7 linked regions of the Homo sapiens genome follow. The protein of the gene in region 3 purifies or fractionates together with the protein of the main gene of each other region. This does not show direct contact. Each region holds a gene or a part of one and is shown on either strand. Other genes may lie near its edges. The genes, in order: FAM91A1, ACADL, TNFAIP6, ITIH3, VCAN, ITIH2 and FOXRED2.

What was found.
Region 1: the proteins of TNFAIP6 (region 3) and FAM91A1 purify together in Homo sapiens (affinity purification with mass spectrometry; one large-scale study listed by BioGRID and IntAct). This does not show direct contact.
Region 2: the proteins of TNFAIP6 (region 3) and ACADL purify together in Homo sapiens (affinity purification with mass spectrometry; one large-scale study listed by BioGRID and IntAct). This does not show direct contact.
Region 4: the proteins of TNFAIP6 (region 3) and ITIH3 purify together in Homo sapiens (affinity purification with mass spectrometry; one large-scale study listed by BioGRID and IntAct). This does not show direct contact.
Region 5: the proteins of TNFAIP6 (region 3) and VCAN purify together in Homo sapiens (affinity purification with mass spectrometry; one large-scale study listed by BioGRID and IntAct). This does not show direct contact.
Region 6: the proteins of TNFAIP6 (region 3) and ITIH2 purify together in Homo sapiens (affinity purification with mass spectrometry; one large-scale study listed by BioGRID and IntAct). This does not show direct contact.
Region 7: the proteins of TNFAIP6 (region 3) and FOXRED2 purify together in Homo sapiens (affinity purification with mass spectrometry; one large-scale study listed by BioGRID and IntAct). This does not show direct contact.

Annotation. Positions count from the first base shown.
Region 1 is NC_000008.11:123,766,967-123,771,274, forward strand, and holds the start of FAM91A1 (protein FAM91A1), read left to right. Parts: upstream 1-1,472; 5' UTR 1,473-1,736; coding exon 1,737-1,808; intron 1,809-4,308. UniProt on the Homo sapiens protein: As component of the WDR11 complex acts together with TBC1D23 to facilitate the golgin-mediated capture of vesicles generated using AP-1.
Region 2 is NC_000002.12:210,222,590-210,227,006, forward strand, and holds the start of ACADL (long-chain specific acyl-CoA dehydrogenase, mitochondrial precursor), read right to left. Parts: upstream 2,859-4,417; 5' UTR 2,675-2,858; coding exon 2,598-2,674; exon of another isoform or gene 1,824-2,597; coding exon of another isoform or gene 1,810-1,823; exon of another isoform or gene 1,726-1,809; intron 1-1,725. UniProt on the Homo sapiens protein: Long-chain specific acyl-CoA dehydrogenase is one of the acyl-CoA dehydrogenases that catalyze the first step of mitochondrial fatty acid beta-oxidation, an aerobic process breaking down fatty acids into acetyl-CoA and allowing the production of energy from fats.
Region 3 is NC_000002.12:151,377,569-151,380,796, forward strand, and holds the end of TNFAIP6 (tumor necrosis factor-inducible gene 6 protein precursor), read left to right. Parts: intron 1-1,619; exon of another isoform or gene 1,620-1,795; coding exon 1,796-1,965; 3' UTR 1,966-2,478; downstream 2,479-3,228. UniProt on the Homo sapiens protein: Major regulator of extracellular matrix organization during tissue remodeling. Catalyzes the transfer of a heavy chain (HC) from inter-alpha-inhibitor (I-alpha-I) complex to hyaluronan.
Region 4 is NC_000003.12:52,793,397-52,797,644, reverse strand, and holds the start of ITIH3 (inter-alpha-trypsin inhibitor heavy chain H3 isoform 4 preproprotein), read right to left. Parts: upstream 2,850-4,248; 5' UTR 2,842-2,849; coding exon 2,749-2,841; intron 2,043-2,748; coding exon 2,022-2,042; intron 1,165-2,021; coding exon 998-1,164; intron 907-997; coding exon 802-906; intron 541-801; coding exon 378-540; intron 1-377. UniProt on the Homo sapiens protein: May act as a carrier of hyaluronan in serum or as a binding protein between hyaluronan and other matrix protein, including those on cell surfaces in tissues to regulate the localization, synthesis and degradation of hyaluronan which are essential to cells undergoing biological processes.
Region 5 is NC_000005.10:83,537,583-83,541,332, reverse strand, and holds part of VCAN (versican core protein isoform 1 precursor), read right to left. Parts: coding exon 1-3,750. UniProt on the Homo sapiens protein: May play a role in intercellular signaling and in connecting cells with the extracellular matrix. May take part in the regulation of cell motility, growth and differentiation. Binds hyaluronic acid.
Region 6 is NC_000010.11:7,709,816-7,713,565, forward strand, and holds part of ITIH2 (inter-alpha-trypsin inhibitor heavy chain H2 precursor), read left to right. Parts: intron 1-3,365; coding exon 3,366-3,470; intron 3,471-3,750. UniProt on the Homo sapiens protein: May act as a carrier of hyaluronan in serum or as a binding protein between hyaluronan and other matrix protein, including those on cell surfaces in tissues to regulate the localization, synthesis and degradation of hyaluronan which are essential to cells undergoing biological processes.
Region 7 is NC_000022.11:36,496,961-36,500,710, forward strand, and holds part of FOXRED2 (FAD-dependent oxidoreductase domain-containing protein 2 isoform 1 precursor), read right to left. Parts: intron 1,197-3,750; coding exon 1,031-1,196; exon of another isoform or gene 895-1,030; intron 778-894; exon of another isoform or gene 598-777; intron 1-597.

The sequences.
Region 1 (4,308 bases), on a different chromosome or scaffold from region 3:
TGTCGTTGACTTTGAATGAACATTGTCTAAATTGGAACAGGAGGTAGAAGAGTTCAGTGAGTGAGAGCCTGAGTTGGGGAACTGAAAGGATGGCTCTGGAGTGAGGATAGCCTTCGGCTCCAGTTTGGCTCTGTCAGTGCTACCTGTGTGATCTTGCGAGCAAGTCATGAAGCCCTGCCAAGCCTCAGTCTCCTCCTCTATCAAACTGGGATAGTAAGTGGTTACTGTTGTAGGAATATCAGGGTTGTGAGGAATAATCTATTGTCAAGTCAAGGCCTTAATACATGGCGGGCAGGTAATCAATATTTGTTGAATAAATGTCTCACGGTTAGAGTTCAGTTAACCTTAGCTATGCTGATGAGGATCTGTAAACATAAGGTTCAAAGCACTTATCTTTGGGTTATTATAGTTGGATAATAGGAGACCAAAACATCTAAGCAAGGGCAGTGTGTACTTGTCACCTTTATTTCATCAGACATAATGGGGTTTCTGCTAAGCATCAGACTTGCCAGCTGTTGAGGTGTGAGCTAGGTATCTTATAAAAAGTTCTAAGTATACATCTCCCAGTATATAATAAAACATTATTTAAAACCATTGTTAAAAACTGAAAAACAGTTGCAATAACACTGAACTTGTCTCTGGTTGCTGCCAGGAATAATGGTCACGGGTTTGCTAAGGCAGCGTAACAACTTCTGAAAGAAATTATTCCCAAAGACCTTATCACTCAATCTGAAATTAAGACATGCTGGATTTTTGCTTTTAAGTGACTCTGGAGGCATTTGTGTGGAGCAGAATAAAGCAGAAACCGACAGGCTGCATGACAAAGTTGGCAAGGGTATCTCTCTGTCAGCCCTGTAGGCTGCCTCGACCTGTCAGCACCACTGTTTAAAATTTCAGCTCCCTGAATCCCTGCATTGTAAGAATTTGGATCTTCTTGGGAAGTGGAGCCCAATGACGTGCAGCACACCGCGGAAGGGAAGAGGGCTTACCAGACCTTTGCTCTCCCACTGCCCATGCTTCTCGCTCAACCCGGTGCGAGACCTGACTTAGAGATTATTTCTTTCTCCAGGGCCCTGGACCCGTCCCCGCAACCCCCCGCCCCGTCTCACTGGCCCGGGTTCCGGGCTGGCCTGTGGAGAACCCCCGCGAGCGCACCGCACTCCAATGTAAAGCCAGCCACTGCCGGCCCGCTTCCCAGGTCGCTTTTCTCTGAAAACCGACCCCAGTGCCTCCGGCTTTACAATTTGAGTAAACTGGGTCATCAGCAACGGCAACGCAGACCCAAGCGACTATCGCCGTTCATTCAGAGACTGAAACGGGGAGACGAAGCGCGCGGGCGGGGAACGCTCACCCGGGCACCTCCCGGTACCTCGTCGTCGCCCCGCCCCGCAGCCTGTAGAGGGCGTGGCTAGAGGCCAGTCCGTGCCCCGCCCCTCCGGCCGCGCGCCAGCGGGCGGAAGTGACGTGTGCCCAGAGCCATTTCCGGCGGCCCGAAACTAGGAAGAAACTTGGAGCTGTTCAGGCGATCCAGCCTCCAATCGCTGCTGCTCTTGTACTCGGTTGGCCCGGGCGGCGCTGAACTGTCGGGAGCCTAGGCCATGGGGCAGCCTGGGCCTTCTGCAGTGTGAGGCGCGGGGCCTCCCGCGTCGCTCCGCTGACAGGCTGCGGGCGGGCAGGCGGGAGGCGTAGTGTGGGTCGCGGTGGCGGCCCCGGCCGCCGGCCCTGGCCGCGGCATCATGAACATAGACGTGGAGTTCCACATCCGGCACAACTACCCCTGGAACAAGTTGCCGGCCAACGTGAGACAGGTACGGCCGGAACCTGGGACCGGGCCCCTGACGGATTCGGCCCGCCCAGCGGTCACCTGCTTGCCTCGCTCGCGGGGCCCGAGCGGGCTGCTGCCGGCTGACTCCCTTCCTTTACTCCTCCGTGGTCTTGGGGAGACGGACCTTCAGCCCAGGGCGAGGAGGGGACGGCTGTGGGGCCACAGGGCCAGGACGGGGCGATCGCTAAATGGGATGGCATGGTGTCCACAGGACTCGACTGGCGCCTTTGCCCGCAGGATACATTCAGCCAGGCACCTGCGATAGAGATTTTAAACACGGTCCTTGACCTCCGGAATTTCAGGATGGTGGGAAAGGGATGGGAAACAAATGAATACGATACAGGATGATAGCAGCTCATACACACCTGCATTGTAGTATATGTGAGAGCAGAGGGAGGGAGAAATTATCCTGGGAGAGTTGGAAGGATTTTTAAGGCAGGCACTTAAATTGGGCCTTGGAGGACGAATAAGAGTTAAATAAGAGGGAATAAAGATTTTTCCAGGGGGAGGGAAAGTCATTTTACAAAGCTTGGATGAGTGAAAGAACATGTCTCATGAGTAGCAAGTGACTGTATCACCAGAGTTTGGACTGACATGTTTGGAGTTGAAGTTTTTTGAGTGCGCGGGGCTGGTAGCAGATGAGCCTGGAAAAGTGGTCAGGGCCAGATTTTGAAGGTGCTTGTGTGCTTTGTTTTGTTGGACTTTATCCTCCAGACAAGATGGGTTTATCAGAGATGTTTCAACAAGAGTGACATGAGGTTTTTGAAAGTTAATTCTCGATTTTTTTAGTCTGTTTTACTCAATTGTTTAATAGATATTTATTGACCACCTACTAGGTGCTGTGCGTTGCTCTAGGTGCAGGTAATTTGCAACAGTCAACAAGACAAAGACTGCCTTCATGGAGCTTACATTTTACTAAAGAAAGACGTAAACAAATAAATGAATAAATACGTAACATAGCAGATGGTTTTAAGTCTTACGAAAGTAGTGATATGGGCTACAGATAACGCACTGCTGCTCTGGTCATAGATTGACCTTCGCTTCCTCCCATTATACTTGGTCGAGAGTGAAATTCAGTTTTCTGTTGGCACTCGGCAGTGGCATTTTTGGGAAGTTTGGAATGGTGGCGGTGATGGTATATAAGGATTATTTATTTATTTTTATTTTTATTTTCATTTCTTTGAGACAGAGTCTCCTGTTGCCCAGGCTGGAGTGCAGTGGTGTGATCTCCGCTCACTGCAAACTCTGCTTCTTGGGTTCAAGCGATTCTCCTGCCTCAGCCTCCCGAGTAGCTGGTACTACAGGTGCGCGCCACCACGCCCAGCTAATTTTTGTATTTTTAGTAGAGACGGGGTTTCATCATGTTGGCCAGGCTGGTCTCGATATCTTGACCTCATGATCCGCCCGTCTCGGCCTTCCAAAGTGCTGGGATTACAGGCGTGAGCCACAGTGCCCAGCCAGTATGAGGATTGTTATAGTTTAGTTTACTTTGCTCCCTTCCTCCCTTGGGGATTTAGTGCCAGGAAGTGAATATTAAGGTTCTGGTCATGCATCATGTGGCCAAGAAAATGCTTTCACTTTAATATAGCAAAAACCGAGAAAGATAAATTTAAAGAACTTGAATTCTTGGGTGTCAGTGGCTGCCCGTGTGGCATTTATCTTAAACTGGGAGAACAAAGCTCTAAACCTGAAGGAATAAATTTCTTTTGTTAATCTTGAATAAAGGCTTTAAAGGACACTTTTGTACTTTAGGGTTTTGTGGCAAATCCAAAGACACAAGAAGAACAAACAGTTCTTCTTTTCTTTGTTTCCATTTTTTCTCTACTCTTTTCATCAGAATAAATGTAGCATACTGGAAGAAAGATGAGTGATGAGATTATATCCAACATGAATATTTGACTTTAATTAGTATTGGCAAAAGAGTTTCTAAAACGTAGTCATGACTATTTAAAAATAATCATGGGACAGTTAAAATTAGGTCTAAATGTGAAATTAAGTATGTTTTTGTTTTTAAAATCACTTGAAAAACAGTGGCTATTTTAGCTTAGGATAAGGTTGGCCATTTGTAGATGTTGCAAAACATCTGTACAAGTTTACTTCCAAGGACCTTCTCTAGCCTAATCACTGCTTCCCTAGGCCGAGCTCCATCTGAGATTACTACATCAGCCTTCTCTCTGGTCTCTTGCTCTTAGAATAGGACTTTCTCTGCATTCTTCATGCTACTCTGGGGGTGAGGCTTCTGAAATGCAAACCCAACCTTATTACTGCTGGTCTCCTTTATATTGCTTGTATTAATAGCATATTTTGATTCTCACTCTGATACTGCTCCTGGGAGGTTTCCCTGACCACCTAAATCTGTGGTGGTTGCCCCTAGGCTATCTTACCATTGCATTGTATTCCTCACCTGTCATAGAGCTTACCCCGCTATGGTGCATTTTGTGGTTACAATACTGGCTTTGCTTTTGTCCCATGAGCACCTCTCA
Region 2 (4,417 bases), about 59 Mb from region 3:
CTTGAAGGTGATAGAGTTAGCCAGGCATACCTCTAGAATAAAAGAATTTTAGGACAAAAGAACAACTAGAGCAAAGGCTGTATGTCTGAATGGTGTCTGATGTGTTCTAGAAAGAGCAAGGAGGCAATTGTAGCCAGAGTGGGCTGAGAAGAGTAGATGAGGCCAGAGATTCTAGGAAGAAGAGATAACAGGGGACCAGGACATGCAGGGGACCTTGACCATTGTCCTGTTGCATCAAATAAACTAACATCTACTTTATCCCTATAATGGAAATGATCGGCTCCTTTTTCTTGCTAGTAGAGATAAAATTATAAAGCACGTATTTGTCCATATAGATTTTCCATACTTGAGAGTTTCCCTCAGGAAAAAAATATGCTGAGATTAGGAAACTGGGGCTGTAAGACACCGAATCATTTGTCAACATAATGAGTAAACAATAGAGCCAGAATTTAAAATCGAGTCTTACTGGATCTTAAAATTGAATAGCCTGTACTGTGTTAAGGAAATCTCTGCAATATTTTTAAGTAAAATATATAAAGACATAGGAAAGCAAAAGAAATGCCAAACGAATAAAGACTTTCAGGTCAGTCAAAGGTGGTCAAGAGAGAATATGCAGAGGGAAGAAAATCAAAACACTTGGCAGCAAGTTTATTGCAACATGTATTTCTCAGTCTAAAGATGAAGAAATCTGTAATGGAAAAATTGGCATTTTTTTCTCTAAGGCAATAAACTGCAACTAATCTTATTGGCTAGGCTATTATTGTTTTTTTAAAGTCTCCTACATTTTAAAAGGGAGACAATCTCCACCAGCACCTTCCACACACCTAGAAGCTGGTTATAAATACACAATCTCAGGCCCCATCCCAGACCCACTGAATCAGAAGCTGTATTTTAACAAGATTCCCAGGTGATTCCTTTGCACATTAAAGGTAAAAAAGCTGTTACAACAAAACTGTAGCCCCCCAGCCCATTCAGAGGGTCTCTCAGGTCTCCCTTTTTCCAGTGTTCTCTATTTGAGGGTAGATTTTCTTGCCATGCTTCAATCAAACTAACTTACGCCAATGGATAAAACAGAAGCAGATATAGTTATCTGGTTATCTTCTATTATGCCAGACATTAAGGGAGTTGTAAAAATGTAAAACAATGTCACTCTTTTCACTTTTTTTCTGTTTAGGAAAAGTTATTTTTCATAAAAACTGTTATTTATGTTAACATGTAATGAGCTTCTTATTGTAACTTTTAAATAAACTAAATATCTGTAAAGTTTCTCAGTTATGTAGATACCTTTCGATAACGACAGACGGATAGATATAACCTACATAAACAAAAGTCCTTTGAGGTCCTGTTTAAGAGCATAAGGGAGCCCTGTTATCAAAAAGTTTTGAGGCAGCACTTTGGGAGACCGAGGCGGGCAGATCACGAGGTCAGGAGTTTGAGCCCAGCCTGGTCAATATGGTGAAACCCCCGTCTCTACTAAAAAGATCAGCCGGGTGTGGTGGTGCGTGCCTGTAGTCCCAGCTACTCAGGAAAGCTGAGGCAGGAGAATTGCTTGAACACGGGAGGCGGAGGTTGCAGCAGTGAGCCAAGATCGCGCCACTGCACTCCAGCCTGGGCGACAGAGTGAGACTCTGTCTCAAAAAAAAAAAAAAAAAAAAAAAAGTTTGAGGATCACTGTCTTATAATGTTCCAAGGAAGAGTTAAGTATGTATCCTAAAGAAAAGTCACCTTCTCAGTGACGTCTTCCCAAATCTCCCCAGGAAAAGTAGGCATTTTGTTTCATAGCTCTCAAATAAAATTAGAGTAGCTTACACCAATGCTGTCATTCGCAAATTTGCCAGTTCCTTCACCCTTATTAAATAATGAATTCTCCATGCTTCCAATTTGTTTACCCAGTGAATAGATTTTATGCATCAGACAGTATCTGAAACTTTTGATCATATTATAAACACCACCTTAGTAGTCACTGAACTACTTAGACTCTGTCTTCATTAATCCTCTGTATTTAGTTAGATTTGTTGATATATCTAAAGCTAATTTCCTTGTTTGATGGAACCCTCGCCAGGTCATTTCTAGCCCAGTTTGTCCTGGACAATTCTGGTCCGCGCCGCAGCCCGGGCACTGAGTCCGGGTCCCAAGTTCACTACCGCGCGGCGAGTCTAAGCCGTGGGGAACGCCGGGTTCACAGCTCGAACTGGGACACAGATCGCAGCCCGCGCTCCTGCAGCCGGGCCCAGGGGGTGACCACCTCCTCCCAAAACGCAGGCTCCCGGGTCCCACTGCAGGCCGCTGAACTAGACGGGTTGGATTGGGGCTCCGGAATGAACTTCTGGAGAAATCTTTCGGCTTTCCCCGACGTGGGCTCGGCGGTCTGTTCTCGGGGCGGCACGGCTGACACCCCTTTTTCCTCCGCCCAGATGCTGGTTGCACCCAGTCCGCGGGATCCAGGAAAGGAGGCCAGCTCTAGCCCGGCGCCGGAGTTGGGGAGCACTCCCAGCCGCGCGCGCACCGCCCTGCTTCAAGCCAGCGACAGGAGTGACTCGCTGCCCCACCCCACAGCCTCCCGGCCTGCAGCCGCGGAAGTCCCGGCTGGCACTCACCGCGCGGCGGGCAGCTGGCGCGGCGCACGGTGGCCGCCCAGGACGCGTAGGGACCCTCGGAGAAGGCGTGCGGCCATGTCCGAAACACAGGGGCGGCGGGGCGACGGAGGCGACTCTGCGGCTACTCGGCGACTCGGGGCAGGGTCCCCGGGAGGGAGGACGATCAGCTGAGGCGTCCACCTGTGGTGTCCTCCCAAAAAAGCGCTCGCGCGCGCCCTTCCGGAGCCCCAACCACGCCACAGGCTGGTCGCGAGGGAATACGCCCGTCTTGGCTGTCAGCAATAGGATTTTACAGCGAAACTGCTGCCTTTGCTTGCAGCATTCTTTCTTGTTTATCGAAGCAGCTCTGAGCCTTTTTAGCGTCCTGAAGCGCTTTGAGTAACGGATGAAAGCTATGGAGCCCCCAAATACGCGCAAATACCTAACCATAAAAATGTACGTGAAGTTTATTTTGTAACCTTGGAAATTGATTTACTTAAAGTAGGCTGAATAGTTTGAGCAAACCCTTGAAGGTGATAGAGTTAGCCAGGCATAGCTCTGGGAGCCCATGCTATTTATTGGTAATAGCAAGTAGAACGAATTAATCCGACACAGGATTTAGTAGAGACAGGATTTCACCGTGTTAGCCAGAAAGGTCTCGGTCTCCTGACCTCGTGATCCTCCCGCCTCGGCCTCCCAAAGTGCTGGGATTACAGGCGTGAGCCACTGCGCCCAGCCCGTTCTGTTAATTCTTAAATGTCCAAGTTCAAGTACATCCGTTGAACAATTACTCTCGCCCTCAGTGACATTTCAACTAATAAAAGCATGCCCTGTAGAACTCTCAGGTAAAAGATGTGAAATATCCCTCAAGGGAAACATAAATGGCTCAAAGGGTTCATGAAATCCTGGGTGATTGGCTTAAACTATCTGGGTAGTTTGCTTGACTTTTCATTTAATTTTAGCACAGCTAACTCTACATTCATAAACATATTTGTTCTTACTTCACAAAAGGAAACTCAGTAGAAAAAAACTGATAAACATGCTAACCAAATGTGATTCAAATTAACTTCACCAAGAATGGAACAAACTAGCATTAGAGACACCTGTATTGAAAGGAACACCACATTATTTATATACTGTTGGGAAAAAAGGCTGAGGGTTGGGAAGAAAGCTGAGGCAGGGCTTGCATGACTGACATAATGTCCTCTGGAATGTGTCTAGACTTGCTGGCTCCTTGCTTTTAGCCCTCCTAGGCTCCTATTCCCATTATCTCAAGTAGCAGAACATGTTCCATACAAATGTAAACCTCCATTTACTCACCTGTAAATGAAGAATAACAATATCTATGTCATAGGGTTGTTGGAAAGATTTTTCAGATAACGGAGGTCAGGTGGTTGGCACAAAGACAGGAATACAATAAACATTCGATAAATGGTAATTATTATTGTCATCATTGAGAAATACTCATATTTTGTAGTAGATAAAAGAAAGAACAAATCCTTTAAAAAAACCCTCTACTTTGTGTATTCCAATGCCTATTCAATTAGAAGGCAAATGTTCAAGAAAAGGAACTGCTTATGCTTTTCCTCTGATACCTGGTAGTAAATGTCATGGACTACACGGTCCTTTCTAAACCCCATGAAAATGCCAGCTTCTTTAACCCAAATAACTGCCTGTGTCTGTATCTGTATCTGTATCTGCCTGTTTATAAATGTATAAAAAGTGAGTGATTAGAAATTATATATATATTTTTATATTTGGTTTGAAGAATACCTTGATGACATAATTGAGAAACTGAAATTGGCATCTGTTAAATGTGTCTGAAATATTTTCTTTTCCCT
Region 3 (3,228 bases):
ATTCTCTCACAATAGAAGAGCAAAAAAGTATCATTAATAATCTAAGTTGAATTTTTGGTAGTGTTTTTGAACACATTTTTAAATGTCTATTAGCCCTTTGAACACCTATGAATTGCCTATGAATTTATATTTCTTGCATATTCTTTGGCGCTTTTGTCTTTCTCTTTTTTATTTCTTTGTATATTAGAGATATTAACCCTATTTTCTCTCAGTCTGTCTCGTGCAAAATTTTTTTTTTATATTTAGGCAAATCTTCCAAATATGAGAAAATAGCAGTCTGAGAATCAGAGCATGAACTCGGAAACCAGACTGCCTGTGCTCAAACCTGACTCTGCCCATTTAGTTCTGTGGCTTTGGGCAAGCTACTTAGTAGTCACTCTGTGCCTCAGTTTCTTATCTGTAAAATGAATATTTAAAAAGTATCCCCCTCACCTCGCAGTGTTGTTGTGGGGGTTAAATGAGTTAATAGATAAAAGCAAGCATTAGGAATGTATATACTCTGCTTTTGTTTATATATATTTGCAGCTCATGCCTGTGACCCCAACATTTTGGGAAGCTGGGGTAGAAGGATCACTTGAGCACAGGAGCTTGAGACCAGCCTGGGCAACATAGTGAGATCCTGTCTCCAAAAACAAACAAAAAGAAGGCCTTTGCCTCCTTTTTGAAAAAGATATAAATATTCCTATATTTTATGTTATATAATAAAGTTTTTCCTTTTTATTTAGCACATTTTGGTCTTTATATTACGGTAAAATGTGTTTAGGTACTCTGTGTAAAGTAGGAATCTAGCTTCATTTCTAATAAATGTGAAACTTGTTGCTCTGACATCATTTAGTAAATAACTCATCCACCCATCGCTGGTTTGACCTGCCCTGCCATTCTCCTGTAATTCTGTGGATGTTCCTTCTACAAAGAGTATCTTCTTTTTTTTTTTTTTGAGACGGAGTTTTGCTCTTGTTGCCCAGGCTGGAGTGCAATGGCAGAATCTTGGCTCACTGCAACCTCCGCCTCCCGGGTTCAAGGATTCTCCTGCCTCAGCCTCCCGAGGAGCTGGGATTACAGGCACACGCCACCAAGCCCGGCTGATTTTTTGTATTTTTAATAGAGACGGGGATTCACCATGTTGGTCAGGCTGGTATGGAACTCTCGACCTCAGGTGATCTGCCCACCTCGACCTCCCAAAGTGCTGGGATTACAGGCGTGACCCACCAGGCCCAGCCCAAGAGTACCTTTTAAATACAAGAGAGAGGCCAACTCGGTGGCTCACGCCTGTAATCCCAACACTTGGGAAGGCCGAGGTGCGTGGACCACCTGAGGTCGGGAGTTTGAGACCAGCCTGGCCAACATGGTGAAACCCCGTCTCTAGTAAAAATACAAAAAAATCTGCCAGGTGTGGTGGTGCGTGCCTTTAATCCCAGCTACTCGGGAGGCTGAGGCAGGAGAATCGCTTGAGCCCGGGAGGCGGAGGTTGCGGTGAGCCGAGATCGCGCCACAGCACTCCAGCCTGGGCAACAGAGTGAGTGAGACTCCATCTCAAAAATAAATAAATAAATACAATAGACAAAATTTCCTGTAGGATAGATTGGAGGACCAAAGGAAAAAATACAAACGTCTCTCACCCTGTTCCATGCGGCAATGAAACCACAGACTCTTCAGCTTGAGAATCGACCTCTGAATTCTGGGAATCTTGTTCATGAATTCTTATATTCTCCTATGAGAATGAAGAGTCTTTGAATTGTCAGCCAAATCAAAGGAGAGTAACATCTTTGTTCTTTTGCCTCCTTCCCCGCAACAGGAAATGTCATGACCTTGAAGTTTCTAAGTGATGCTTCAGTGACAGCTGGAGGTTTCCAAATCAAATATGTTGCAATGGATCCTGTATCCAAATCCAGTCAAGGAAAAAATACAAGTACTACTTCTACTGGAAATAAAAACTTTTTAGCTGGAAGATTTAGCCACTTATAAAAAAAAAAAAAAGGATGATCAAAACACACAGTGTTTATGTTGGAATCTTTTGGAACTCCTTTGATCTCACTGTTATTATTAACATTTATTTATTATTTTTCTAAATGTGAAAGCAATACATAATTTAGGGAAAATTGGAAAATATAGGAAACTTTAAACGAGAAAATGAAACCTCTCATAATCCCACTGCATAGAAATAACAAGCGTTAACATTTTCATATTTTTTTCTTTCAGTCATTTTTCTATTTGTGGTATATGTATATATGTACCTATATGTATTTGCATTTGAAATTTTGGAATCCTGCTCTATGTACAGTTTTGTATTATACTTTTTAAATCTTGAACTTTATAAACATTTTCTGAAATCATTGATTATTCTACAAAAACATGATTTTAAACAGCTGTAAAATATTCTATGATATGAATGTTTTATGCATTATTTAAGCCTGTCTCTATTGTTGGAATTTCAGGTCATTTTCATAAATATTGTTGCAATAAATATCCTTGAACACACATATTTGTGCACCTCTCTAATTATTTAAGACAAGGACCTGGAAATAGAATTACTGAATCAAAGGTTAATTAAAATAAAATTTTCTGTTTTGATAGGCAAAAATGAGGCCTCACTGTAGTTTGAATTTGCATTTCTTTATTCATGAGATTGATGGTTATATAATTTTTTGTTAATTTTTTTTGTGAATTATTTTTCCATGCCTTTTTTTCACTATTTTTAAAAACTGATATAATCTTCTCTATTGATTTGTTAGAAATTATTATATATGTCCATGTTTGTCATATATGCTGTAATTTAATTTTTAGTTTATATTTTGTCTTTTACTTTAATGGTTCTTTAAAATATATCAAATGTTAAAATTTATTTGCAATTATACTTGATTTTGCTGAGGTCTCTTTTCTCATATTTATGTTTAGGACTGTCAAAAGACAAAATGACAACAAATTTAGTTTAAAGATCTTAATTGGCTTTTATTTGCAATTCTAGAATCAGGCACCTCATTTTTAAAATAGAATGAGTGTTCTGATGAGCTGAGCAGAGGACGTTGGTTTTATTGATATAAAAGGGCTGAGGAGAGCAGAAACAGAAAACAAAAAGCAGACTGGTTGTTTCAAAGTTACTTTTCTTATAAAGGTTAAAGCAGAGGCAACTTCCTTATCATGCCAGCTAAAACTGGTCTGTTTGAGGGTTTGGCTATTATCTCTCTGTGGCTCTTGGTTTCTTGGAAGGTCAGATAAACAACTAATTTC
Region 4 (4,248 bases), on a different chromosome or scaffold from region 3:
AGTATGCTGATCGGGAGGTGTTACCACCGCCTGCCATATGCGCCCGAAATTCCACCACTGATGCTTTTCCTTTGGCTTTCAGCTTTGAGGTAGGAAAAATGCCCATGTGCCCAGTGAGAAGCCTTACAGAGGCACTTGCTGGTGTTGCTCTTGAGGGCCCAGCACCGAATCTGCATCTGTGGAGTCCATCCCAGCCTCTTCCCCTTGGCCCCAGATGCTTTTGGCCAGAACCATTGAATTCCTCCAGCCTTCCCAGCCAAGGATGGGGGATGCCGTGAGGCAGAACTTTTGTTTTTGACCCCTGTCTGAGACTGCCCCATGGGCGGGTTCCTGCACCCCGCTGCCGTCCCCCCAGGTCTGCAGGGGCGGTTGATTACCTCAAAGTGTTTGACCAGTTGCTTAGGCTGGACCTTGAGGTACATCTCGTACTTGCCCTTGTGCCTCTTCAGCAGCTCCTCGTAGGTTAGCTCGAAGGTGACTTTGCTGCCTGCAGCCACGTTGACCGAGACTGTGAACTTCTCCAACTTCCTCCCAGAGGCCCTGACCAGGGTGCGAGATGGTGACTCCCTCAAAGACTGCAGGAGCCCACCCTTCCTCGGCCCTCGGCCCCAGGCCCAGCCCTTTGGCGAGGGAGATCCCTAACCATTCTGAGCCTCACTTGCCTCAGCCTCAACGTGGGATAATGGCAAAATTATGGGCACATTTTGCTATACCAATAATAATAGCTGTTGTTGTTGTTTGTAGCCCTGAAGGCCCTTGGATCCCAGACATTCTCCCCAAGGCCTGGGAGTCCATACTTACTTGACCAAGCCGGCCGTCTTGCCCTGGGACACAGCCTTTTCATACTGCTTCTTGGCAACTTCCTTCTCCTTGACATTCCCAGGGTAGGTAACACCGTCGATGGTCCTGCAGGGAAAGAGAGTTGGGGGTAGGGAGATCACACTGGGCCAGACCCCCTGTTCCCGAGCCCAGAGCCAGCAGCCATGGTGGTACCCACAAGGTGAAGTTGGTGATGAAGGCCGTCTTGGGCAGCTCCACATCAAAGGAAACCTCCTTGGCCGTGTCTGCACGGTTGACGGCTCTCATGGTGACAACATTGTGAGCAAAACGGGAGGTCACCTTGGAGTTGATTTTGGTACTGTAGACCTCGATGCCATTGGCCACCTTTGGGGAGGTGGGTGGAGAATCAGCCAGACTGGGACACTGGAGAAGCAGGTTTGCAACCCAGCCACCTCCCTTGCAAACCCTTGGAGGCTCTGAGGCCCCTGCCCGGCACGCAACCCTCATCCTCCAGGTCTTCTACACTGGAAGACTTGGTGGCGTCTCCAGTCTCCATGTTCTGGTGGCCACCATTATTCAGATGCTTGTCCTGCCTCCTTAATTCTGCGATCCGTTTACACACCACTGCAGCCAGTGAGAGCTTGCCCTTTCCCGTCCAGTCACCCTGAGCTCCAGCTATGCGTGGGACACTGGCTCTGGAGCATCTGCCCCTGGCTCTTCCTGCTCATCCTCCACACCTCACACTCCCTCAAGCACACAGCCCAGCCCACCTCCTGGGTCTTTAGGTAATTGCCTCATTCTGTCTCCCAAAGAGGAACTGATTTCCTGTGCCAAGGGAAGTCTCCAAACACCCTCTTTCCAATAGGGGTGTTGAATTTTGAGAGGCTCTAGGGAGGTGTTCCAGCCCCCTCCCCCTAGGGATATAAAGATGCTTCGTGAGGGTGTGGCAGGGACCGCTTCACAGAGCCAGGTACCAGCAAGTGCTAAGGAAGTGTCTGCGGAAGGAAGGGATGCCTGTGAGGGGCCCTCTTGGGCTACATCCTGCGAGGTTGGAGGGGTCGTCACTCTGTGGTGCTCTTTCCCAGGAGTCCTGCGCTGTTGGAGGCTGCCAGGGCAGAGGGCCGTAAGCTGTTTGCCAGCTGTGAGGAGTCAGCTGTTATAGCCTACACCTTCAGCAGTTGGGGAACCAGCTCCATCCTGCCCTGCCCCACTCGGTCCCACCCCCTGGTGAAAGTTCTTACCCCTTCCGGGAGGCTCCGTTTCTGAAAAAACAAAAACAAACACAAACACAGGAATCAGGCCAAGGCCAACACCAAGGCCGCATGGCCTGGGAGGCTCTGGGCTGAGACCAGGGGTTCAGTGGTGCCCTGCCCCCCACACACCTGAGTGGCCCCCAGACATAGGACCCTCCAGAGCCACATGTCAGAGTAGGAAAAACTCTGAATAGATGGGGAAACTGAGGTCCAGAGAGGGGCAGGTATCCAGGTTACCAGGAGAGCAGGGCAGGGGGAACTGAACCCAGAGCTCTCTTCACACCCTACATGCCCCACCTCATTCTATCTCCCATTCTGCCTTTCCCTGGCCCCCAGGCCCCTTTAGGCCTCCTTCCAGAGCACCCCTGCCCCCGCCACACCCCGCAGGGCTCAACTGAGCATTTTGTAGAGGTCACACTCGTTTGAGACTTGAACCTTCATTGCCCCTCAGTGAAGTGAGCAGTTCCTGGTGCATTGCTCTTTTGACAGGTGGGGAAGCTGAGGCCCAGGGAGTTTTAAGAGCCTTCCCAGGGTTAGACAACAGGTTAGCATAGGCCTCAGCTGGAGCCCGGTTCTCCCAGTGTCCACACTACTCCCAGCAGCTCAGTGCCCAGCCCTCTGCCTCCTCTTCACTCCACTCAGAGGCCTTGCCCAGCATGATGCCTTCTGCCCATTCCACACCAAGACCCAGATGGCAAAGAGGGGGCAGACTCACCCCAAGCAGCCGAAAGGGGCTTCTCGGGAAGCCAGAGGCTGCCAAGCTGGAGAGCAGAGCCAAGATGAGACAGGGCCACCATGCAAATGCCATCGCTGAATACTCAGGCCTGGCCCACGCTCCTTATATGAGCAAGCCTGGTGTTTTCCAAGCAGGGTCAGTGACCTGCAGCGGGGGTGGGAGGAGTGGAGGCAGGAAGGGCCTCCGGGAAGCTGGGCATGGGTGGAATGACGGGTCCCTCGATGTGTCTGTCTGAAGAAGGCCTGGTGGGTCTTGCCAACAGCGTTGGGGCTTCATTCCTGAGAGACCGGGGGACTCGGAAGAGGCCCGCAGGAAAGCAGAAGCTGTGGGCCAACAAATGGACCCTGGGACTCCCTGGCGTGGATGATGGAGATGGGGTGTGGAGTTGCATTTAGGGCAAAGGGCATCTCAGCATTGTTGCCTCTTATCCCTACCACTGGGACAGCCTCTCTCTGGCCTCCTGGATTGCAGCCCCTCCCTTCTTGAGGCAGCCAGGGCGTGAAACTAGACTGTCACCTTCAGGCTGGGACCTCCACAGCAGAGCCCCTCGCTCACTACCCTTCTATGGCCCCCAAAGCCCCAGGGAAAGGACACACAACGATCCCGGAAGCCCAGCTGTCTCTGTGATCTGACCCCAGCTTGTTTTTCTGAGCTCACTCTCTTGCACCAGCACACCCTCCCCTTCTGCACATGTCACATCTTTCATCTCTCTGCCAGTCCCAGTGCCTCCCCTCCAGGACCCTTCCCTGGCCATCCCCTAGAGGACTATGGGACATCCCTGCTCCAAGCCCCAAGCCCCCTGAGGGCCTGCTTTGTCATGACCTTATGTTGAGGTGGATGTGCTCAGGTCTGCCTGCCCCCTCTGCACCCAGAGCTCCTGGGGGCTGGACCATGTCATGTTTCCCTCTGTGCTTCCAGGGCCCAGCCAGGGACTTGGCTGCCCTCAGCCTTTTGGGGAGTCATTGCCCTAAAAGTCGTAGTGAGGCTGGGCTCCAGCTTCCAGGACAACAGGAGCTTTAGAGGCAGGACCTGGTCTCAGTGGGGGCTGGGACCTCCTGAGCCACCTCAGGACCCTGCCAGCCTAGCCCCATCAGGGCAGCTGTTGCACACCCACCATACCCATGGCTTCTCTGAGCCAAGCTGACCCTGTGACCCTCCCACTGGGCAGCCCACTACTGAATGGAGTCGACAAGGACGGCTGGGTCCAGGACAACTAACTTATGGGGAGTTCAGCGGCCTCAGCTGAAAGCTCTGGTGCTGACTGGGAGATGTGCAGAGAGAGTTGTTGGGAGCAGAGGAACCAAGAAGGCAAAAGGCAGATGCCACGGGGCAGCGGAAGCCCTGAGGAGGGTGTGGTCTAATGGCTGGAAGAGGCAGCAGCCACAGAGCAATGATGGAGAGTTGCCAAATCAGCCAGGCACTATGGCTCTTGCCTGTAATCCCAGCTTTTTGGGAGACTGAAGCTGGAGGATCACCTGG
Region 5 (3,750 bases), on a different chromosome or scaffold from region 3:
TATGGTCTACTAATGCCTCCTCAGCTCCTGAAGAGAATTCTGGCTGAAAAGAAGGACCAGCATGTTTTTTGTCTTCATACTCCTCCTGAGTCCTTTCAAATTGGCCCAATGTTGGTATTATTTCACTTTGGTCTGCAATAGCTTGACCATCAGACAAAGTGCTTGATTCAAACATGTCATCCAGGGCTTTTGCTTCAGCTTTTATTCCTTCAATCTCTGGAATAACTGTGGCAGACTTACGAGGAATTGGCAGGGATGTTGCCGTGGGAAGTAAAACGTCTAATTCTGTTTCTGTGCTAGGAGCAGGGATCCCAGTTGTGAAGTGAAAGCCCATGTGATCTAGTTGGCTTCTATCTTCATAAGTCATTGATTCATCATGTGTTGCCTGAGTGTAGCTAGCCAGAACATCAGCAGAGCCCTCAAATGTTTCCTCAGTTAAAGAAAGGTTGACAGCTGCCTCATAGATCTCTTGAACTTGAGTGCTGTCATCATTACTTTCATCATTACTGTCATGTGGTTCTGATGGTACCTCTGTATCTATATCTGTTTGCATTCCAAGAATGTCTTCATACACAGGTTTAGTATGATCAATATCTATGATAGTATTTTTATCCGATGTCAGCTCAGGTAGAATTTCAAGGATGGTACTCTCTGTAATTGTCAATATTAAATCCTTGTCCTCTTTGTCCAGGTCTATGATAATATTTTCAGTGGGTTTTTTTCTGTTAGGTTTTAAGGTGGAATCCTCGAATTCCCTGAAACGGTCTTGGAAACTACCGTCTGTGGACCTCTCATATGACACTGTATTTGACAGTGTGCTAGTTGGATCAGGGGAGCTTTTGTTCTGCTCTGAATGAAGAGGCAGCATCACTGAAACTGTTGGGAATCCATCAGCAGTAACAGCTTTAGCGCTTGGCACCTCAGGATGTTTTTCCAGGGACCCATCAGAAACAAATGTGGTGCTGCTTTCTTGTCTGGTTGCCTGAGTAGTTGCAGAAGTGTGAAATGAATCAACAATATCCACTTCTCCAGATCCTTCTCCAGAAGGTTCATAATACAAGTCAGATGGTTTTGGTGCTGATGTAACAAATTCTTTGGCCATTTCAAAACCATAAGCTCTAGCCAGAAAATCAGTAGATGAGGTTGTTGTTTCGTTAATTTCTGCTGTTGAAGAATTCTTGTTAGAGTCTTGTTCAGTTATGGTTTGTGGTCTACTAGTCTGGATTTCTTCTGCCCACCTGACAGTCTGATTTTGAGGATGTCCGATGTCCGTGGAGAAAGGGAGAGGTGCCACCGTGGGTCCTTCTGCTCCAGTGTCACTTAAAATTTCTATTAATGTTGTGCTGGTTACTGACCCACTACCTTCAAAGATGTCTGTTTGAGATACGAGTGGTCCAACTTCTTTTGCCACATTTTCCATTCTGTTAAAGTCTTCAATTTTGTCACTTGAGGTACTTTCCACTTGAGAAGTGTGGGGATATAATGTGTTATTGATTTGTTCCACTTCAGTAAAATTCACTGACTCTGTTGGTAGAGTAGGTAAAACTTCTTCTCCTGATCCCAGTCCAGAGAATAAGAGCTCAGTATCTGACTCTTGAATTGTTGGTCTCATGCCTTTCGGAAAATGTTTTGTACTTTCTTCCTTTTTGATTGGTGAATCTGTGACTACATGTTCAGCTGGTATAGATTCAGTTACTAATGCAGTAGCTAAGAAAAAATGTGACTTTTCAGTAGCTTCAGGGAGAGTTGTGTAAGATTCCAAGCCATTTGCATCTGGATCTGGAGTAGACATGTTAACTAAAGAAGTGTCTTCCTCCTTCATTTCTTTATCATCACTGTAAGTTTTCTTTGTTGTTAGTACAGAATAATCTGTGGTTTTGAGTTCAGTTTCAGTAAATGTCTGTGAATCAAAGATTGTTTGTTCTGTTGCAGGAGAGTTTTGAGGGGATTCAAATGACTTTTCTTCTTGAATTTGTTCCTCTGATGTTGTTTCACTTTCAATTTCTTGTCTTACAGGGTTGACTTCTTGCCTAGACCATAATTTGGCTGGCTCTATAGTTTGGGGAAAGTTTGTTGAAACTGTGCCACTGACCTTTACTTCCTCCTTCTCTACTGGAGCTTTCGTACCTTCCACTTCTGCTGTTGGTAAAATGGTGGATCTTCTATCAATTTCATTGACAGTACCCACTTCTCCCAATCCTTCGTCGATAATGGAGGAAGCTGTACCAGAAAACTTTTGCACAGCACTGGGAAGCACTGGAACAACAGAGCTGCTGACTGTGACCAGTTGCTCACCTGAGCCCTCAGCTGAGGATGTAAACTCTTCCCAGGGGAAGGCTGAAGTGCTGACCATGGTGCTACTGGGTCCTTCTGAGTCAGATATGTGACTGATGTGAACTGAAGTAGGTACTGTAGATGGTGAAGTCTGGGTGTCCCTAAATGCTGCATCTCCAGAGCCTTCCATCATTACCGTTTCTTCTTTTGCTATGGGATGAGACACTGTTGAGTATTCTCTAAAGTCACCACTGAAATCTTCCTCCAAAGGAAAACCTGTGGAAAAGCCCCTTATTTCTGCCCCATAATTTGGTTCTCCTAATCGCTCTGAAATCACTATTTCCCTGGATGTTTGGGTTATATTTTCAGCAACTACTCTGTCCATTACTGTACTCAAAACCAGTCCTGTTGGCTCAGTGGAGAATGTAGTTTCCACATGCGGAGACAAAGTGCCAGCTACTTCCTTTTCGGCTTGAATTGCATACTCTACGTTTAATGAAAATGAAGAAACAGTGGTGGTTTCTGGGTCGGCAGCAGCTTCTCCAGAGCCCTGCTCCATAAAGACAGAGGCAGGACTACGTGGGAGAGTGGTCAGCCCTTCCTGAACCCCAGGTTGATGGATACTGCTGTGCTCAGTGGTCTGTGCCCCCAAATTTTCTAATGTATTTGTTTCTGTAAAGACAGGAGTAGAATCTGTCATTTCCCTTTCAGACTGTGTTGGTGTTGTCAAGGACATAAAACTTTTCCTGGTACCTGAATCACTAGATGTAGCTACATTTGGACTTTCTAATTCAAAGGGTAAAATTAATTGATCCGATCTCTGTGTAGATGAATATACCTCAAATGTAGAAGCCGTACCTGTAGTTCCCTCCTCCTCCTTCCTTTTCTTTTCCTCAACAGTGGTACTGGAAATCCACTCAGAAGTGTCTGTTTCACTTACAAACTTGGTAGGCACCACTTTTGCAGAAGGTTGTTCAGAAACTGGATAAATGGTGGTTGCAGGAACCTCAAAAAAGCTTTCTGTGATTATCCTGCTAGTGTCTAAAGTAATGAGTGTATCAGTAGTATTTCTCTGTGATAAATCAGTTACCATGGTGAACATTGTATCTTCATCTTCTTCTGCTTCTCCAGAGCCTTCTGTAATTGGAATCGAAGAACTCCCTGAGAGCTCTACAACTTGTCTAGGAGTTGCTTCTACCCAGCTTTCTTTGGTAGACAACAGGTCATCTGGCCAAGGATTTCCTATTAGGGTAACTGCTTCTTCCTCTGAAACATATGCTGATGCAGAACTTGGAACTATAGTGGGAGTGTATGTGACAGAAGTACTTTTTTCTACCTCTTCACCAAATGTTACTTCTGTAGCCCTTGCAAAGGCTATTTTCTGAGATTCTTGGTCAATGGCAATCTCTCCTGAAGACTCTTCAGGAAACAGAGATACAGGTTCAGTATGTTCATGTGCCTGATGACCAACTTCAG
Region 6 (3,750 bases), on a different chromosome or scaffold from region 3:
TTGAAGTGTTCATAGATGAAATGATGTGCCATCTGAGCTTGGCTTCTTTTTTTTTTGAGATGGAGTCTCGCTCTGTCGCCCAGGCTGGAGTGCAGTGGCGTGATCTCGGCTCACTGCAAGCTCCGCCTCCCGGGTTCACACCATTCTCCTGCCTCAGCCTCCTGAGTAGCTGGGACTACAGGCACCCGCCACCATGCCTGGCTAATTTTCGTATTTTTAGTAGAGACGGAGTTTCACCGTGTTAGCCAGGATGGTCTCGATCTCTTGACCTCGTGATCTGCCCGCCTCGGCCTCCCAAAGTGTTGGGATTACAGGCGTGAGCCACCGTGCCTGGCCTTGAACTTGGCTTCTTAACAACTAAGGTGGAAAGCATGAGAGTACAGACAAATTAAGATTGGCTGAGTATTCATAATGGTGTAGCTCAGTGATGGTTTCATGGACATCTCATATTATTCCCTCTATTTTCTGTGTGTTTGAAATTTTTCGTAATAAAAGAAGGTTAAACTACTCCAATACTTTCCAAACAGTTAATACCAGTTATCCACTTGGAGCCTTCATGTATCAAAGTTAAATATTCTCTGTTCCTCTAAGTGATTGGAATGATTTCTATGTCCAAATATCAAGGTGGCCAACCCAGAGTATGTTCCAGGTGGTCAATGTCCCTCTTAAGTTGCCAAGAACACAGCAAAGTACTGTGCATAAAGTCTGGCTATTTTTTTTTTATGAAGACATTAGGTTGAATTACTTCTCATCCACTTTTGTCTTTCATACACCAAGGTAATCAGTGATCATTGTGGATAAATAGTAAAGGGTTCAACCACCATGTACTTTGGCTGCCGAAAGTGGCAGTCATGTGAACTCTAACCAAATAGGCAGAAAAAGGCATTGTGTCACTTTAATTGGTATCCTTTGAATTGGCTTTAAAATGTATCACTTTTTTTGTCTGCCTTTTCTAAAAAGCAAAGGGAGAAGGAAAGGCTTTTCTGTACTGGTATTATATGACCCCATGTCTAGAAATGACATTGAAAACTATTTTAATAAATTCCTATTTTTAAACCACACAATCAGAATTTACTCAAAAGATCTCTTATTTCTGTTTTCCTTCTTTTTTTTTTTTCTTTTTTACTTTAAGTTCTGGGATACGTGTGCAGAATGTATAGGTTTGTTACATAGGTACACATGTGCCATGGTGGTTTGCTGCACCTATCATCCCATCATCTAGGTTTTAAGCCCCACATGCGTTAGCTGTTTGTCCTAATGCTCTCCCTCCCCTTGCCCCCTACCGCCCGACAGGACACGGTGTGTAATATTCCCCTCCCTGTGTCCATGTGTTCTCATTGTTCAACTCCCACTTATGAGTGAGAACATACAGTGTTTGATTTTCTGTTCCTGTGTTAGTTTGCTGAGGAAGATGGCTTACAGCTTCAACCATGTCCCTGCAAAGGACATGATCTTATTCCTTTTTATGGCTGCATACTATTCCGTCCTTCATTCTGTTCTTTCTTTACTATCTCATTACATAGAAGATTTGAAGTACAAAGGACAGAATCGTGAAACATGCATTTACTTTTATCTCCCTCTGCTCTGAGCTGAATCTATAAGACCAGAGAAGATACCTGCTTAATTATCACAACTTAAAATGAGCTGTGTAGACCTATGTACTAGCCAAAATATCCCTTTTACCTTTTTATCAAGATCTTGAATATTCTATGGGAGATGATTTCCTTTGTCCTAAAGACCCCTTGGCCTTTGAGACTTAGTTCTGATTCGATAGAAGCATGATGGCCTTGACCAGCAGTGTGACCTTGGCAAGAGTCACCTGTCTCCTGGGGTCTGATGTCTCTCATCTAAAGGGGCAAACCCACAAGTGTGCCTCAACACACGTGCTGTTGGCATTTGGGGCAGGAAAATTCTTCAGTGGAGCTGTCCCTCATATTGCAGGATGACTAACATTCGTGGTGTCCTCCCACAAATGCCAGCAGCACTTCCAAGTCATCTCAACAACCCAAACTTCACACATTTCCAAATTGCTCCTTGGGAAAGACACTGCCCATTTGAGTACTGGAAGTTCCCATGTACTTCCAAAATTCTGGATTCTACCACTCTGACCAACCATTACTTGGTAAGGATTAGGTGCTAGCCAGCTAAAGGTAAGGTGTATAGAGATGAGATGCAAATAGAAGACAGAGGTCCCCAAGGGAGATGGTTTCCAGATAAACACCACCTTGGCAGGGGACCCACCAGCACCTTCCCCCTTTTTCTTTATTCTTTTCCACCCTTGCAGAGGAGCATAATATTCTGTCTTCATCAGCTCCGGCTGCTATGACTAAGTACCATAAAATGGGTAGATTATAAACAACAGAAATTTAAAATTCATAGTTCTGAAGGCCGGGAAGTCCGAGATCAAGATGCCCAAGGATTTCGTGTCTGGTGAGGGCCCATTTCCTGGTTCAGTCAAGATGGAAAGAGATGAGAGAGCTCTTCGAAGTCTGTTTTTTATGACAGCACTAAATGCTATTCATGAGGAGAGAGCCCTCTCCAAGGCCCCACCTCGTAATGTCATCGTCCTAGGAAGTAAGGTTCAACATGCACATTTGCGGGGAACATAAACATTCGGTCCATTGCATACCCCACAGCGATGCCAAATTCTTAGCTCACAGAATGACCTGATGAACCAGTAATGAGATAATTCGGAATTTATCAGTCACCTCCCCTAATCACATTTGTCATTCAAAGGGGATACCCAAAGAGAACCATCCTTAATCTAAAGGATGAAATTCAAAGATGAGGAAAAATCTATAAACAAACAACAGTACATGAGGGAAAGGTTTTAGGATGGGAGCCTACCAAACCCCTCTCAAGCCACACTATCCAATCAATAAAGGAAGTCCTGTCCATAAACTATTTGAATGCCTCCCTTCTTATTTCTTATAGACACAAAATGATCATTGCCCTCATTCATTAAATTAGCCTTGTTGGGTTGTTTGCTCGCTCTTGTTTGTTTTGCTAAGATTACTATTCTGGGCCAGGCGCGGTGGCTCACACCTGTAATCCCAGCACTTTGGGAGGCCAAGCCAGGTGGATCATGAGGTCAGGAGATCGAGACCATCCTGGCCAACATGGCGAAACCCAATCTCTACTAAAAATACAAAAAATTAGCCTGGCCTGGTGGCAGACGCCTATAATCCCAGCTACTCAGGGGGCTGAAGCAGGAGAATTGCTTGAACCCAGGAGGTGGAGGTTGCACTGAACTGAGATTGCACCATTGCACTCCAGCCTGGGTGACAGAGCAAGACTCCATCTCGAGGGGAAAAAAAAAAAAGATTACTATTCTGACCAACTGGTTACCTTCTGTCATTTTCTAGGACTGTGGACGGCAAGACATTTAGGAGCTCTATTAAGGAGAAAACTGTGGGCCGAGCTCTTTATGCACAGGCCAGAGCAAAAGGCAAGACGGCTGGCTTGGTGAGGTAAGGCCTGAGTGAGCAAGGCTTGCCCTTGCCTCTCAATGACGGTTTCCTCTCCTACTTCCTTCCCACAGCAGCAAAGCAGCCTCTGGAAAGGCACAGCACCTGAGCCAATGGCAACCTCCTCAGAGCCAGATGTTAGAATTAGGCACTGCAGTTTCTATTCGCCTAAAGGTCCCTCTTCAACCAATGGGTTTTGGGTGATCCCACGCTGGTTGTGCTTACATCACTGTCTTGCAGGTAGATGGATGTTCTGTAAATAAACACTGCTTTTTCTAAAGAG
Region 7 (3,750 bases), on a different chromosome or scaffold from region 3:
ACCTGAGGTCAGGAGTTTGAGACCAGCCTAGCCAACATGGTGAAACCTAGTCTCTACTAAAAATACAAAATTAGCCAGGTGTGGTGGCATGGGCCTGTAATCCCAGCTACTCGGGAGGCTGAGACACGAGAATCGCTTGAACCTGGGAGGTGGGCTGCAGTGAGCCAAGATCGCACCACTGCACTCCAGCCTGGGCAAGACATAGTGAGACTCTGAGTCAAAAAAAAAAATTAGCCAGGCATGGTGGTGGGTGCCTGTAATCCCAGCTACTTAGGAGGCTGAGGCAGGAGAAGTGCTTGAACCCAGGAGGCAGATGTTGCAGCGAGCAGAGATCGCACCACTGCACTCCAGCCTGGATGACAGAGCGAGACTGTCTCAAGAAAAAAAAAAGAGGGGCAGGGGCATGGAGGGTGATGCGAGGGTTTTGTGCAGAAAGCGGCTGCACTACCTGCATGTCCCTGAACTTGGTGTGCTATAGCACGCCCTGCCTTTGGATCGGGCTGTTCCCTCTGACTGAAGGTTGCTCCCTTGCTTCTCCCTGCCACCTGTCTCCCCCCGCCCCTCACCCCTCTGTGCTCTGCACCGTTTCCTTCTCAGGAACTGTCCATCCTCTGGGATCTGCTGCTTATCACTAAATTGACTCTGACGATGGTGGCCGGCAAGGCCCTGGCCTGAGGGAGCTCTGAGATCCACGTGGCTGCCTCTGACTACTGCTCATCCACGTGATGCCAAACACTTTCCACAAGTGACCTTTACTCCTTCCTTTACTGCTGCAAGGTAGGCACAATTATCCCCATTTTGCAGATGAGGAAGAAGGGCTCAGAGAGGCTCACTAATGTGCCCGTGGCCACTCACAGGACTGTCTGTAGAGTTAATGTCATTGTTTTTCCCCAGAACAGGCATGTTCCCCACAGCAGCCTTCATCTTAGGAAAGAACTGGGCACCTCACACCTGGAATAGGAAGAGAAGCGCTATGCAGCACGTCGGGAAAGCTGGGCCGAGGGGAGTAGGGTGGGGACGGGCTACTCACTCCTTCAACAGGATGACATCGGCCAGCACACCGAACATCTGGTAGAGCCCAGAAGCCTCATTCACGCGCCGCACGATGGAGCTGGTCAGCTGTGTGATGGGGAGCTCAGTGGCGGGCCAGGTGACGCTGTGGTGGCGGTGCTCCAGGAGCCGGTGAACAGCACGCACTGGAACAGCCAGAGGGAGGAACGGCACGCTGCACTTACCATTTTATCTCTGGTCACTGGGAGGGATGCCCAGGCCTCATTGACCCCTGAGAACGCCATACACACTGGTCTCCATGGCCCAGCGCAAACGCCTAGGTGGTGAACACATGAGGGGAGGAGATGGCAGCTGCCTTTAGAGCAGGGCCAGCAGGTATTTTCTGGAAAGGGCCAGACAATCCATATTCTCTGCTTTGTGGGTCATACACGACTCAGTGATGCTGCTCAATTCTGCCCCTAGTGTAAAAGCGGCCAAGACAACAGGCAAAGGAGTGAGCACAGCTGGAGTTGGTCTCCAGGCCAGAGTCCATCTGCCCCTGCTTCAGGCCATCTGCACGTGGGAGTCCCACCGGCCCCACCTCACACAAGGAACGTCAAGTCCAACACGGAGCCTTCCCCAGAAACCTCCCCCCCTTCACAGCTCTGTTTCCATCAGAGACGCGCCTACAGAAATCTTTGATTTCGCCCTCTCTTTCACAGCCTAAATCCATCTGTCTCTAAGTTCTTTTTTTAAATATTTTTTATTTTATTTTTTTGAGACAGGGTCTCGCTCTGTTGCCCAGGCTGGAGTGCAGTGGTGCGATCTCGGCTCACCGCGACCTCCGCCTCCTGGGTTCCAGGAGGAACCGACTCCCAGAATTGAGTCCAATCCTTTGCCCGTACTGTAAGACCCCTCTGCAGTGGTCCCTACACTTATTATTGTAGTCCTCTAACCTGGAATAAAGTCCACCTTACCGTCTTCATTTGTATTATGATTTTTGAGACAGAGTCTCACTCTGATGCCCAGGCTGGAGCGCAGTGGCACGATCTTGGCTCACTGCAACCTCTGCTTCCTGGATTGAAGTGATTCTCCTGCCTCAGCCTCCCAAGTAGTAGGGATTACAAGCCTGGCTAATTTTTGTATTTTTAGTAGAGATGGGGTTTCACCATGTTGGTCAGGCTGGTCTCGAACTTCTGACCTAAGCTGATCTGCCAGCCTCAGCCTCCCAAAATGCTGGGATTATAGGCATGAGCCACTACGCCCAGCCTGCCTTACTGTCTTTAAAAAGAAAAAAGAAATATAAATATTGAATGTCTTTGAGTGGCAGAATATAAAGATTACTCCCCGTAATTCCCTACATTTTCACATTTTTGATGCTCAGGCTAGGCATGGTGGCTCATGCCTGTAATCCCAACACTTTGGGAGGCTGAGGTGGGTGGATCGCTTGAGCTTGGGAGTTTGAGACCAGCCTGGGCAACATGGCGAAAACTTGTCTCTACCACACAAAAATAAAAACAACAAAATTAGCTGGGTGTGGTGGTGCACGCCTGAAGTCCCAGCCACTCAGAAGGCTGAGGTGGGAGGATGGCTTGAGTCTGGGAAGTCGAGGCTGCAGTGAGCCGAGATGGCGCCATTGTACTCCAGCATGGGAAACAGGAAGAGACGCTGTCTCAAAAAAAATAATAATACTAATTTTTTAAAGCTCAGCTGTAAGATTATGACTCCATTCTTTCAAATAGACTCACCTAACCACCTAACTGAATACTGTATGCCTCACTGAGTGAATTTCAACCAACACCCTGTCCTTCTCAGAAGGTTAACCACAGGAGCAGGAACATCTAATTTTTATTTATTTATTTATTTTTGAGACAGAGTTTCACTCTTTTTGCCCAGGCTGGAGTGCAATGGTGTGGGCTTGGCTCACTGCAACCTCCACCTCCAAGGTTCAAGTGATTCTCTTGCCTCAGCATCCCGAGTAGTTGGGATTACAGGCGCCCGCCACCATGCCCGGCTAATTTTGTATTTTAAGTAGAGGTGGGATTTCACCATACTGGCCAGGCTGGTCTCGAACTCCTGCCCTCAGGTGATCCACCCACCTCAGTCTACCAAAGTGCTGGGATGACAGGTGTGACCCACCGTGCCTGGCCACATCTAACATTTTAGACTCCTCTCCACAGAAAGGGCACCAGTTTGCTTTCTATGAAAGAAGAGAAGACCTTTGTAGAAAGTGTCTTTCAGGAAAGCTCCTGGGCCTTGGAGTTTAATTCCCATAATGGTGAGAAAATCACCAAAACTCTGAGCCTCAGAGTTTTACACTCTTGAGGAAAATGGAGATTTCACACCCACCTTTCGGGGTGCTGGCGGCCCTGCCAGGGTCGTGTGTTCAGTGCTCAGCCCACTGAAGTCACCCAACATGCGTGAATTCATCTCTCTCACTTCCTTTTTATTTCCCATTTACTCCTAAAATCACAAGTATCAATTTTTGGTTGGGGATTATTTTAGTGCAATAAATAGAATTATGTTTTTAAAAGATATTTTAGTATTTTCTTTGTAAACATTCTCAAGTTGGCAGAAAATTTATACCCTTGGTACTGAGAGTTTTGAAAAAGAACTGATATAATCCAATTACATTTTTTTTTTTTTTTTTGAGATGGAGTTTTGCTCTTGTTGCCCAGGCTGGAGTGCAATGGTGCGATCTCAGCTCACCGCAACCTCCACCTCCTGGGTTCAAGTGATTCTCCTGCCTCAGCCTCCCGA